2 linked regions of the Homo sapiens genome follow. The protein of the gene in region 1 interacts with the protein of each later gene in a pairwise test. Each region holds a gene or a part of one and is shown in the gene's direction. Other genes may lie near its edges.

What was found. Proteins that work in one complex are often made in the same cells at the same time.
Region 2: the proteins of CCDC150 (region 1) and PSMB5 interact in binary tests that used the Homo sapiens proteins (3 or more experiments, as listed by UniProt).

The regions. Positions count from the first base shown.
Region 1 is NC_000002.12:196,635,038-196,642,737, forward strand, and holds the start of CCDC150 (coiled-coil domain-containing protein 150), read left to right. Parts: upstream 1-4,677; 5' UTR 4,678-4,729; coding exon 4,730-4,741; intron 4,742-7,700.
Region 2 is NC_000014.9:23,025,335-23,031,906, reverse strand, and holds the end of PSMB5 (proteasome subunit beta type-5), read left to right. Parts: intron 1-4,077; coding exon of another isoform or gene 4,078-4,162; intron 4,163-5,531; coding exon 5,532-5,818; 3' UTR 5,819-6,051; downstream 6,052-6,572. UniProt on the Homo sapiens protein: Component of the 20S core proteasome complex involved in the proteolytic degradation of most intracellular proteins. This complex plays numerous essential roles within the cell by associating with different regulatory particles.

The DNA.
Region 1 (7,700 bases):
AAAAAAGAAAAAGAAAGACCAATATCCCCCACAAACACAGACACAAGAATACTCAACAAATTATTATTAAATTGGGTCTAGAAATATATAAAAAAGGAAAATACAGAATGATTAAGTGGGATTTATCCAAAGAATGCAAGATTGTTTCAATGTGGGAAAACTCAACCAATGTAATTTACCAGATTACCAAACTAAAGAAAAAAACCATGATTATCTAAATGGCATTTGACAAATTCAAATTTCTTTCCAAAAAAACTCTCAGCAGACTAGAAATGAAAGGAAATTGCCTGGATATGATTAAGGACAACTGTAAAAACCGATGACTAACATCATACTTAATGGGAACAAGATAAGGACATCCTTCTTTCACCACTGCTATTCAATATCATAGTAAAAGTTTTAGCCAGTGCAACAAGGCAAGAAAAACAAAGTCATTCAGATTGAAAGGGAAAGAAAAAACTCTATTTGCAGATGTCAGAATTGTTTATGTAAAAAAATCCCAAATAACACACGAAAAAAATTCTAAAGCTAGTCCTAAAACTAGTAAGAGAGTTTAGCAAGGTCATAGGATAAGAGCTCAAAATACAAAAGTCAATTATATTTCTATGTACTAGCAACAAACAATGGATTTGAAATTTAAAAAAAAAACTAGTAACAAAAAGTGGAAAACTTAAACACAAATCTAAAAAAAATATAGTATCTATATATTGAAAACTATAAGATACTAATTAAAGAAACCAAAGAAGACCTTAGATATGTGGAGAGATACATTATCTTGGTTTGGATGAAAAATTATATGGTCACACTATCTACACAGGTAATAAAAGGTACTTTTATTTCTTTTGTATATTCCCAGTGCTTATTTATACAAATATAAAATTCTTATCCCCCCTGGCATTACACAATACCTCACTTGTTCAACTTAAAATATATCCTATAGAATTTTCCATATAAGTACATAGACATTTTCCTCATAAAAAAATTTTTATTGTGAAAATAATTTTAGACACACAGAAAATTTGTAAGAATGGCATAGTAAATACTCACATACCACCACCTGGATTTCCTTATTTTCTTTGATAAACATGGTATTTGATTGTGTGAAGTTAATTCATATATTTCTCATTGAATAGTTAGATGCTGAAAATTCTGTCTTACCCCACTGCTGTCAGATGGGGTGGAGAATGGTAGGAGATGGAGTCTAACCAAAATGCATAAGCTTTGAAGCGAGATAGAGCCAACTCCAAATAACCATTCTGTCACTTATTGGCTGTATGGCCTTTAGGCAAGTTACTTAACTTCCCCCGGTGTCAGTTACTTCATAAGTAAAATGAGAATATAACTACTACACCAAAGGTTACAGTCAGAATCATGTGGTGATATGATAAAGTACAAAAGAGTACTTTAATCTTAGGAAAGGTAAAATAGAGCTGCAGCAGTGTCATCATAGCCTTGACCTTATTCATAAGTTTGGTTAATGGAACAAGGTGAAAATCTACCTGACTATAAAATTTAGTTGGTGGAGCTAAGTGACAGAGACCGTATAAGAAGCACTGTTATCCTTGGCCATTTCAATTAATAGAATTATCTTCTCAGCCGTGGCCGGGCGCGGTGGCTCACGCCTGTAATCCCAGCACTTTGGGAGACGCGAAGTGGGCGGATCACGAGGTCCAGAGATCGAGACCATCCTGGCTAACGTGATGAAACCCCGTCTCTACTAAAAATACAAAAAAATTAGTGGGGCGTGGTGGCGGGCACCTGTGGTCCCAGCTGAGGCAGGAGAATGGTGTGAACCCAGGAGGCAGAGCTTGCAGTGAGCAGAGATCAAGCCACTGCACTCCAGCCTGGGCGACAGAGTGAGACTCCGTCTCAAAAAAAAAAAAGAATTATCTTCTCAGCCTTGGGCTGATTCACCAGTTCATTAAAAAGCCAAAGACTCTTTCAAATCCTAATCTCTATACCCAGAGCCAATACTTTACCAAAATATCTGGATTGCCCACATAAGGTGAGGAGCCAGTTAGTGAATTTGCCATTTTTATTCTTTTATTTTACCAACAAGATATGAAAACTTTGGGTGTTCTGTTTGCATTTCTTTGTCCACGGAATACATTTCCAACTCCAAGGGGAAGTAGTTGCAGGGAACTTTACTGCCATTCGTGTAACTACAATGTCAAATCATCTGCAGCGTATATTCTATTTGGAGGCCTTTTCCTGGCTTACAAGTAGAGAGTGAAACACAGCCTCTATTAGTAGAGCCGTTTCAAAATTTATTCATTCACTCACCTAACAAAAACTTTCCAAACCCCTACTGTGTGCCGGGCATTGTACTTGGTGTTGAAAAGAAAAAAACAAATTCCTGTCCTTAAGTAGCTTACAGCTCAAATAAGGGGAAATAAGATACATTGACAATTATGAAGTGCTTTGGGAGAGAATAGAATGGCTTCACAGAAGAGGCTAAGTTTCTGTTGAGCTGGTGAGACTGACAAGAGGAAGGCCGTGCGCAGCAGAGTGAGCATAACCTGCAAGCACAAAGACATTCTATGGTAGCAGGCTTGACTTCAGAGTTCCACTGGGGCACTAGGTGCAGAGTAGGCTGGAGGGTTTGGCTGAAGCTATTACCAGTTTGGTCTTCATCCTGCTCAATGGAAAACTTTTCGTTCAATGGGGGAACGATTAAATGTTTTTAAGCAAAGACCTGAGATAATCAGATTTACTTTTTTAAAAGATCTGGTAGCCATATGAAGGATACTTTGGAAGGGGTAATAGGAAAACCAGTTAGGAGGTTATCGCAGTGAAACAGAATGTGGTCTTCATGGAATATCTAGGATTTCCGTGAATGAAATGATCTTGTTTGATAAATGGGGTAATGTCTGAGAACTATTTATCAACTGAAAATCAAGAGGGAAATCAGCAAGAAAATCGGTATGTTTGGCATTATTTCAATCAAAATCCTGGCAGAATTTTTGTAGGTATCAACAAGTTGATTCAAAAAATTTGGGAGAAAGGTAAAGGAACTAGAAAGTTAAAGGAACAGCCAAAACAAATTTGAAAAAGGACAAAGTTGGAGGACTATACTCCCTGATTTCAAGTTTATTGAAGACTTCAGGTCCTTTTCTCTAACTCTGTAATTGCTTAAGTTCTTATACGGTTTGCCAGACAGTGAATAAGGGAAAACAAATGAAAAACACGAATTTAATCAGTTTGGTTCCCTGACTGCTGCTTAATATGGAGATTTGAGGAGAAGGTGAAAACTCTCATTACACAAAAACACGTGGATACATGTATCACTCATCTCTTAATTCCACTGATAAACCAGAGGTCATTGCAAGATAAAACATACATAATGAAAATAATTGGCTGTTTGCACTGACGCTTTAAAATACATTTTCATTTCCTATTAAAAGCTTTATTTGGTCCCTTTCTCTGAATAATGTATGCAGTGCTCATTTCTCTTCACCGGATCGGCTCAAAGCTTGATGAATATGGCTGTGGTTTGATGGGCAGTCTCTGCATCTCACATTGAGGCTCCGCTATGAAAAGAATTAGAATAGCAAGATCAATTGTCAGGCTAAGTAAATGAGCTCTCATCTCGGATCTGATTGCTTATATGAGAGGGCTGAAGTGATTCTTGGCTGCACTCTCAGGGAGAAGAGAGAAATGCATTTTAATTGCCCTGGCAGGGATAACAGGTGTTCTGTCCAGCTACCAAAACGCAAAGCCGCGTCTTTGCACTATAGAAGGCTTTCCCTTAAGTGAGAATACATATTCTTAAAGCAAAACAACTCAGAAACGCTGGTGTGGTGATGCACGCCTGTAATCCCAGGACTTTGGGAGGCCGAGGTGGGCGGATGGCTCGAGCCCAAAGAGACCAGCCTGAGCAATATGGTGATGACCCCGCCTCCACGAAAAAATACAAAAATTAGCCAGACGTGGTGGCGCGCGCCTGTGGTCCCAGATACTGGGGAGGCTGAGATGGGAGGATCGCTTGAGCTCGGGAGGTCGAGGCTGCAGTGAGTCGAGATCGCACCACCGTAATCCACCCTTGGCGACAGAGGAAGACCCTATCTCAAAAAAGCAAACCACCAAAAAAACCAGGGACAGCTCAATGCTCTTTTCCGTTTCATAGCTACTTACACTCAGATTTACAAATACCTATTAACTTGTAGACAGGGCAAGAAATAATTTATGCTGAAGAGACGAAAGACCTGAAAACAGATTTCTGTGTTTTACTCTCCATGTGGCCATCATGGACGAGGACGAAGAGGGACTTGATTTTTCCTTTAACGAGAAGAATGTTTAAGCTCTGAATTTTTAACCAATTTTTATGCTCGTTACTCTGCTGTAGGGTATGTATTTACCAAGATTAGCAGAACACCGCGAGTTCACCAGGCGGAGACAAGTCACTGTGAAGTGGGCAGCACAGGACCCCCCGGAGGGCAGGCGCCGGAAACTACATATCCCGGCGTGCCCCGCTCGCGAGCACAGTGGAGCCTGCCGCCATTCGGTTCACGGCGCTACGCATTCCCTGAGCGCCGCCGGATGCCGGCCTGGGTCCCGCCCAGGGCTGAGGGCCCTCCTGGGCCGGGAAAACTACAGTTCCCGACATGCCCTGCCACGGGTGCGCCTGCGTACCGGAGCTACTGCGCCGGGGAGCGGGTTGGTTTAAAATGCTGTGTTAGTTCCACGGAAACCCGCTCGCCTGCTGCAGTACGGAGCCTCAGGCGGACAGATGGACTGTAAGGTGAGGCTGCCGGGCCCCGGGCTGGTGAGGGGTGGTCGGAGGCTCGCGAGGCTTCGGCTCAGATAAGGACAGTCACCACTCCCTGGCGCCCTCTCCCTGTCCTGACGGAGTCCAGTCTCACTCCCTGGACCTCAGGGCCCTGATTTAAGGCGCTTTGGCGTTGGCTGCCGGTGAAAGCCATTTAGGAGCGAAGTTTGCATTGGCCTGGCTCCAGCTGAGGGATGGGAGATAGCCACCGAAGCCTCCAGATAAGCCCAATACCACCTTTATTTATGTGTTAAGTTGGAGTTTAATAGGTTCCTGGGAAGGCTATTTCGGCGTTAATGTTTGATTTTTGCCACCAGTTAATCCTCCCTGGCTTGCTTACCAGAATATAGGTGTCAGGAATTTGCACTTGTTCTTTACGGTTTCCGCAGTACCTGGCGCTCTTGCTAGAACGGAATAGACATTCGTTAAATTCCTGTCGAAGTATTCTCCTGTTTATTTACCACCTATAATTTCCCAGGCACTGTATTAGGCTCTAAAGATAGAAAAATGTCTATTTTTAACCCCACTTTAGAGAAGTTCGTATTAGTCCGTCTTAAATGCCCCCCAACACATGCTTCTAATTTGTTAATCTTGGCGTGCTCAGGACTAGGTCCTTTAATCCTTTGTGTTCTCTGTTATCCCGCCTTATGGTTTTCTTGAGCTCTTCAGAAATTAGTCTCCAGTCCACACCTCACCCCCAAACTTCAGATCCACAAATTCAATAATGTATTTGGTATCTTTCATGTTTTAAATTTGACATTTTAAAAACTACTCTTTATCTTTTCCACAAAACGGATTCTTCCTTAATAAGTTTGCATTGTCTCAGTGATAGCACCATCCAGGCCAAAAACCCTGTAGTAATCTTGGCTTCTTCCTTTCCCTCATATCTCATATCTAATGCATCAGCAAAAGCTATCTTTCAAGTATATCTAACCACTAACCACTTCTTACAGTAGGAATACCGCTGCTGTCACCTTGGTTCTGGCCAGCAGCATCTCTACTTCTGCTTTTGTTCTTCCACCATTTGGAGTGGGAGGGAGTCAAAATGATCCAGTTAAAAGGAAAGTTGGATAGCATTCCTCAGCTATAGACCTCCAGTGACTCTGAGAATCACTGACAGCAAAAGCCAGACTTCTACAATGGCCTTCAAGGCTCTGTGTATTCTGTTTTTTGTTTTTTTGAAACGGAGTCTCGCTCTGTCGCCCAGGCTGGAGTGCAGCAGTCTCAGCTCACTGCAAGCTCCGCCTCCTGGGTTCACACCATTCTCCTGCCTCAGCCATCCGAGTAGCTGAAACTACAGGAGCACGCCACCACGCCCGGCTAATTTTTTTTTTATTTTTATTTTTGTATTTTTAGTGAGACGGGGTTTCGCCGTGTTAGCCAGGATGGTCTCGATCTCCTGACCTCTTGATCTGCCCGCCTCGGCCTTCCAAAGTGCTGGGATTACAGGCGTGAGCCACCGCGCCCAGCCGTATTCTGGTTTTATTATTACCGTCTGACCTCATCTCTCAATGTTCTCTGTGTTACTCCTTCCTCTCCAGCCAAACCCACCTCTTTATTATGTGCGGACTCATCAGACCTTCTAACTTCAGGCCTTTGCACTTGCTGTTTCCGTCTTCTGGGCCTTTCTGCCCTCTGATATCTATATAACAGGTCTTTGCTCAAATGTTATGAGGCCTTCTTTGACCACCCTGTTTAAAATGAAAATCTGCCCTGTAGCCTCCATACCATGTTCTTTCCTATTTCATTTTCCTCCTTTGCACTTATCACCAATAAACAAACTATGTATTTTACTTAGTGTCTGTCTTCTTCAGCTGGAATATAAGCTCCACGAAGGCAGGGAGTTTTGTTCGTACTGTTCTACCCAACCCCTGCCCCCCGCCTCATTGCCTATAACAGTGTGTGGCTCATGGTAAATGTTCAGGAAATATTTGTTAGATGTGTGAGTGAATGAAGACAGTGTTACCATATTATTTTCTAGTGGTTGTGATAAACAACATTGACTCCCTGGACTGTTATTTTGGAACCAACAGCATGTACTTGTATACGCTTTTGCCAGTGTACACCTATTGCCAGGTGTAGGAATGGAGCCTGTGTCCACAGAAGCATGTGTTCTCTTTTCAAAGTCATCTGGTTTTTACTAGTATATTACTTGTGACATTGGTCTTTTTCTTGCCATGCTTTCCATAAGGTTACCTGCCTAGAAGCTCTTTGGAAATATTCTCCCTAAACATCAAGACAGAATTCTGTTAGTTTGATAATAATATATGCATAGAAATTAGTTATGAATGAACTTTTTTAAAAATAAAAGTTTATATCTCAGTATTTTTATTATTGTTACTATCAAGCGTTAGGACTTAGGTTCAAGGCAGCAATCAATATTTGCTCCTTTTCAAACACAACAAAGCACAGATATGTTAAAGCTGTTGTCTCTTTGCTAGAATGTCAGCCATTAGAGGTAGATTGTTTTCATGTAAGACTGTGCTTCTTAGACTATGAGCCATAGAACTATGACTTATGAGGATCTGCCAAGTGGCCATTGGAGAGTGTGCGTGTATTTATGTATGTAGGGGTGTGGGTGGCATTTCTGCTACCACTGCTTTGGGCCTACCAGATGGGGAGGACAGGCAAGGGTATGAGCAACTGCAGTGAAAATGAGAATCTCTCTCTAACTTTAAGCCCCAACTTGGTAGATTAATTTACTGGATTGAAAGTTCTTATCTCATACTTTAACAGCCTCCCAGATACTCGGGGACTCTGCCTGGTGGCTTTAAGGCTGTCCTCTTGCTACTCAGCCATTACCGCCCCCTCCCTTGCTTCCAAGGACTCTCCTGACCTTGGCATTGTTTGGTTTTTGTTTTTGTTTTCCCATGGCGGGAAGTGGAGGTGGTGGTTGGGAGGGAAGGTTTTTAACTAACCCTGAGACTTGTTT
Region 2 (6,572 bases), on another chromosome or scaffold:
ATGTTGGCCAGGCTGGTCTTGAACTCCTGACCTCAGGTGATCTGCCCACCTCAGCCTGCCAAAGTGTTGAGATTACAGGAGTGAGCCATTGCGCCTAGTCCTGGGCTCATTTCTTTTATTTCTTTGCTGGTTATAATCACCCTTACAATCATGCTAGGTCCGGTTCTATCATCTCTGAAAATAAGTTCCTTAGCCTGTTTTTCCTTTCCAGCATTTAAGAAACTTGCCAGACAGTTCAACTTTGTATTTAATGTCATTTCCTCATCAGCCAGTTTTGAATTGCCCGTTTAGTAAAGTTGGAGTATAGCTAGTCACCTTCTAATTTTCCCTTCCATATGCTTAAAAATAATTATTCTTTCCTCCTTTTGATTTTGCTTCATTCATTTACCTGCTTACTAAATACCTAGTTATCTTATAGAACAATTATAGGGTACCTACCACTTTTTCACTTGCTTTCAAACGAGAATAGAAAGGGCTGTAGGGAGTATCCACTTACTACCCAATGGAGGATGAAAGGAAATTAAAAACCGGATGTGAGAGAGGAGCTCACTTTGTTACTTTGGAAATTGAGATGCTTTTCTCTGAAAGGTGGGAAAAGACAGTTCCATACATTTTACGTGATCCAGGGAAGCATTTTGGAAATGTTGCTTTGAACCTTTAGCTGGCGGATTTGTTCTAGGTGATGGAAACAGTGTAAAAGAGTACAGGGACCGGGTAACAAGGAAAATCCAGGGAGACTGAGCATCATTTAAACAGTGCCTTCTTCAAGAGGCCTTCCTGATGACCCTGTCCCATTCATTGTGAGTCAGCCCCTTGCCTCATATTACAGTTGGCCCTTGAGCAACATGGGTTTGAATCACTCAGGTCCACTTATACGCAGGTATTTTTCAACCTAATTCTGATTGAAAATACACATTCCCAGAATTTGAAACCCAAATATACAGAGGACCAATTTATTTATTTATTTATTTATTTATTTTTGAGATGGAGTTTTCCTCTTGTCACCCATGCTGGAGTGCAATGGCGCGATCTCAGTTCATTGCAACCTCCACCTCCTGGGTTCAAGTGATCTCCTGCCTCAGCCTCCCGAGTAGCTGGGATTACAGACACCCGCCACCCTGCCAGCTAACTTTTGTATTTTTAGTAGAGACAGGGTTTCACCATGTTGGCCAGGCTGGTCTTAAACTCCTGACCTCGGGTGATCCACCTGCCTCAGCCTCCCAAAGTGCTGGGTGGCGTGAGCCACCATATCTGGCCAACTTTTCATATATGCAGGTTCTGCAGGGCCAACTTTGGGACTTGAGTGTGCATAGATTTTGGTATATGCAGGGGTCTTGGGACAAATCCCCTTCATATACCAAAGGATGACTAGTTAACCCAAGGCTGAATAAGATAAATAACCTTTTTTTTTTTTTATTGAGACGGAGTCTCGCTCTGTCGCCCAGGCTGGAGTGCAGTGGTGCCATCTCTGCTCACTGCAAGCTCCGCCTCCCGGATTCACGCCATTCTCCTGCCTCAGCCTCCCGAGTAGCTGGGACTACAGGTGCCCGCCACCACGCCCGGCTAATTTTTTGTATTTTTAGTAGAGACGGGGTTTCACTGTGTTAGCCAGGATGGTCTCAATCTCCTGACCTCATGATCCACCCGCCTCGGCCTCCCAAAGTGCTGGGATTGCAGGCGTGAGCCACAGCTCCTGGCCTGATAAATACCGTTTTTAAAAGAACCAGTTGGCTGGGCATGGTGGCTCATGCCTGTAATCTCAGCACTTTGGGAGGCCGAGATGGGTGGATCACCGGAGATCAGGAGTTCGAGACCAGCCTGACCAACATGGTGGAACCTTGTCTCTACTAAAAATACAAAATTATTGGGAGGCCGAGGCGGGCGGATCACGAGGCCAGGAGATCGAGACCATCCTGGCTAACACGGTGAAACCCCATCTCTACTAAAAATACAAAAAATTAGCTGGGCGTGGTGGTGGTCGCCTGTAGTCCCAGCTACTTGGGAGGCTGAGGCAGGAGAATGGCGTGAACCCAGGAGGTGGAGCTTGCAGTGAGCTGAGATCGTGCCACTGCACTCCAGACTGGGCAACAGAGCAAGACTCCATCTCAAAAAAAAAAAATACAAAATTAGCCGGCTGTGGTGGCACATGCCTGTAATCCCAGCTACTCAGGGAGATGAGGCAGGAGAATCTCTTGAACCCTGGAGGTGCATGCCTGTAATCCCAGCTACTCAGGAGGCTGAGGCAGGAGAATCAATCACTTGAACCTGGGAGGCAGAGGTTGCAGTAAGCTGAGATTGTGCCATTGCACTCCAGCTTGGGAAACAAGAAAGAAACTTTGTCTCAAAAATCAGTCAGTCAATCAATAAATAAAAAGAACCAGTCAAATGCGGAAGGAGTTTTGAGGAGGAAGAGATTACTTATGATGGGAGGAATTGGGGAAGACTTCATGGATTGGTGGTGGTTGTCCTGGATGTAAAAAAGGGAAAGGGAACATAACAAAGAAAGGGAGGAAAGAAGCATGAGCTTTTGAGGAGTAACTGAAAGTCCAGTTTAATTGGAACTAAGTGGGTGAAGGGGAATAGTGAGCCATAAAGCCAGAAGGGTACTTTGGAACCAGATGATGACCCCCCTCTAGGCAAGAGAGCATGGCACTGGGGCTGAGGAGGGGCCAGAGAAAGGAGTAAGGTAGACATCAGAATCACCTGAACCTGAAAACCAATAAGGGCAGAGGTGCTCAAGCTGGCTTGCATTAAAATCACCTGGGGGACTTAAAAAACAAGTTCCATACCTGTTTCCCACCCCACACCAGTTATAAAAAATACCTAGGGTAAGTCCTGTGCATTTTTGAAAAAAATCTTTGTTAGATGACTCTAGTGCACAGTGAGATGTGAGAATCACTGAAACAGGAAAAAGAGTAGTGATGCTATTGGCAGAATTTCAGAAGACAGGAGGAAGCGTGGGTTTGTGGCGCACAAGAGAGATGAGTGTGGTAGGTAATGGAGAACCACTGGTATCTAAGTTTAGGAAGTTTGAATCTGTACATGATGACAAAGACATCCAGCTGGAGGGATCCAGTAGGCAGTTGGGATTGAACACTTTGTCTAAATTTTCATCTGTACCAAAAGTCAGCTAGTTTTTTCATAAAGGGCCAAATAGTAAATATTTTAGGTCTGCAGGCCTAAATCTTTGTCTCAAATACTTAACTCTGCCGGTGTTGCACAAAACAACCATAGACAGTATGGAAACAGTGGCTCTGTTCCAATAACATTTTAATTACAAAAATAAAGGCAGTTGGCCTGGCCAAACCCTGGTCTATACCAGCAATAGAAATATAATGTGAGCCATATATGTAATTTTACATTTTATACTAGCTACGCTTTTAAAATTAAAAAAAATTAATTTCAATATATTTTGTTTAACCTAATAAATCCAAAATATTATGTTAGCAGGTAGTACTAGTTCATTTCAAATGCTCAACTAGTCCTGTGTGGCTAGTGGCTACCATATGGACAGTGCAGGTCTTTACAATGTGATTACAAACTCTAGGCTTTATTATCCTCCTGTGTAAAGTATGTCTTGTTCTCCAGATAGTCTAAACTCTTTGAGTTCTGGCATTATGGAGTTTGTTTTTCTGTCACACAGGCTGCAGTGCAGTGGCATAATCACAGCTCACTGTAGCCTCAACCTCCTGGGCTCAAGTGACTGGGATTATGGGGTCTTTTGATGGGGGAGTGGGGATTATGTTTTGTTTGTTTGTTTTTTGAGACAGAGTTTCACTCTTGTTGCCCAGGCTGGAGTGCAGTGGTGCGATCTCGGCTCACTGCAAACTCCACCTCCCAGGTTCAAGTGATTCTCCTGCCTCCGCCTCCTGAGTAGCTGGGATTACAGGCATGCGCCACCACGCCTGGCTAATTTTGTATTTTTAGTAGAGACAGGGTTTCTCCATGTTGGTCAGGCTTGTCTTGAACTCCTGACCTCAGGTGACCCACCTGCCTCGGCCTCCCAAAGTGCTGGGATTACGGGTTTGAGCCACTGCGCCTGGCCGGGGATTATGTTTTAAATGTTATCTTTCACAGTGTCTGAAGTTCTGTGCTTGAAACCTAAGTCATTTGGAATGTACTTGTTTTGTGGGTGTGCTGAGAGGATCGGCAACATGGCAAGGTAGTTATTATAATATAAGGTGAGATGGGGTGGTATGTTGTAGAATCCTGGAGTCTTAATATTAAATTTTATTCCTTCAGGTTTTTTTTTTTTCCTGAAGACAGCATCTCAGTCTGTTGCCCAAGCTGGAGTGTGGTGGTGTGATTATAGCTTACTGCAGCCTGCAAGTCCTGAGCTCAAACAATCCTCCTGTTTCAACCTCCCACAGACATGCACCACCACACTCAGCTAGCTTTTAAAAAAATAATAATAATTTTATAGAAGTCCTATCTTGTATTTATGTTGGCTTCCCTGGGTTTCTCTTTTATATATATATATATTATTTTATTTATTTATTATTATTATTATTATTTTTTTTTTTTTTGAGACAAAGTCTTGCTCTGTCTCCCAGGCTGGAGTGCAGTGGCGCGATCTCGGCTCACCGCAAGCTCCGCCTCCCGGGTTTACGCCATTCTCCTGCCTCAGCCTCCTGAGTAGCTGGGACTGCAGGCGACCGCAACCACACCTGGCTAATTTTTTGTTTTTTAGTAGAGACGGGGTTTCACCGTGTTAGCCAGGATGATCTCGATCTCCTGACCTCGTGATCCACCCGCCTCGGCCTCCCAAAGTGCTGGGATTACAGGCGTTAGCCACCGCGCCTGGCCTATTTATTATATTATTTTGAGACAGCGTTTCACTCTTGTTGCCCAGGCTGGAGTGCAATGGCGCGATCTTGGCTTACCGCAACCTTTGCCTCCCAGGTTCAAGTGATTCTCCTGCATCAGCCTCCTGAGTAGCTGGGATTATAGGCATGTGCCACCACGCCTGGCAAATTTTGTATTTTTAGTAGAGATGGGGTTTCTTCATGTTGGTCAGGCTGGTCTCAAACGCCTGACCTCAGGTGATCTGCCCACCTCAGCCTCCCAAAGTGCTGGGATTACAGGCATGAGCCACCGCGCCCGGCCTATTTTTTTATTTTTTTAAATTTTATTCTAGGTTTTAAGAGAACTACTGCTGGCCGGGCGAGGTGGCTCACGCCTGTAATCCCAGCACTTTGGGAGTCCGAGAAGGGCAGATCCCCAGAGGTCAGGAGTTCAAGACCAGCCTGACCAACATGGTGAAACCCCGTCTCTACTAAAAATACAAAAATTAGCTGGGCGTGGTTACGAGCGCTTGTAATCCTAGCTACCTGGGAAACTGAGGCAGGAGAATCACTTTAACCCAGGAGGCGGAGGTTGTGGTGAGCCGAGATTGCGCCATTGCACTCTAGCTTGGGCAACAAGAGCAAAACTCCATCTCAAAAAAAAAGAACTACTGCCTTGGCATATGAATTAGATATCAAAAGGGGTGATCTTTTTTTTTTTCCTGCTAACCTCATCTCCCTTTCCAGGCCTCTACTACGTGGACAGTGAAGGGAACCGGATTTCAGGGGCCACCTTCTCTGTAGGTTCTGGCTCTGTGTATGCATATGGGGTCATGGATCGGGGCTATTCCTATGACCTGGAAGTGGAGCAGGCCTATGATCTGGCCCGTCGAGCCATCTACCAAGCCACCTACAGAGATGCCTACTCAGGAGGTGCAGTCAACCTCTACCACGTGCGGGAGGATGGCTGGATCCGAGTCTCCAGTGACAATGTGGCTGATCTACATGAGAAGTATAGTGGCTCTACCCCCTGAAAGAGGGTGGATGCAGCTGCTTGTGTTTCTTGGGGTGACTGTCATTGGTAATACGGACACAGTGACCCATCCTCCATCCTATTTATAGTGGAAGGGCCTTCAATTGTATCAGTACTTTTTTTTAAGCTCTGGCACATTGACCTCTATGTGTTACCAGTCATTAATGAGCTGCTGCAGAGGTGACTATTTGTTTTACTTTCTTGGATGTTAACATTACACTACTCACTACTCAATCTCAGCCTGTGTTGCATCTTTTGTCCACACTGTCCCTCCTCCAAGCACTTTTCAGTCAAATAAGCCAGGACAGTGGAAGGGAAGTGACTGTAATTACAGGAAACAGTGGTGTGAAGACATTGTCTAGTGAATACATTAATGTCCCCACTCATGAAGCTAATAACGGAGAAGGAGAGAGAGGCAGGGAGGAGGGAGACACTTCTCGATTTGGTTTACAAAGAGATGAAAAGTTGATGAGGTGGAAAGATGCACAGGGCTGTACCAGGCAGGGCTCCAGCGGAAAAGGCTGTCACCCTGTGGTGGGGGAAGGGAGGCTGAGGCTACATGCAGAGCGGAAGGGTGAAGAGGGTAAATCTTGACTCTTAAACCAACTGGGAAGGGAAGGCTTGGACCCTGGGAAGGGGAGGACAAAGAAGTGGCTGTGAAAGCAGTAGTAACCACAAGCTTGGTGACCCTTGTCCTTTTGGTCCTCCAGTGCATATGTGTGGAGGGGAGAGGGTAGTGATGGTGATTTTATAGC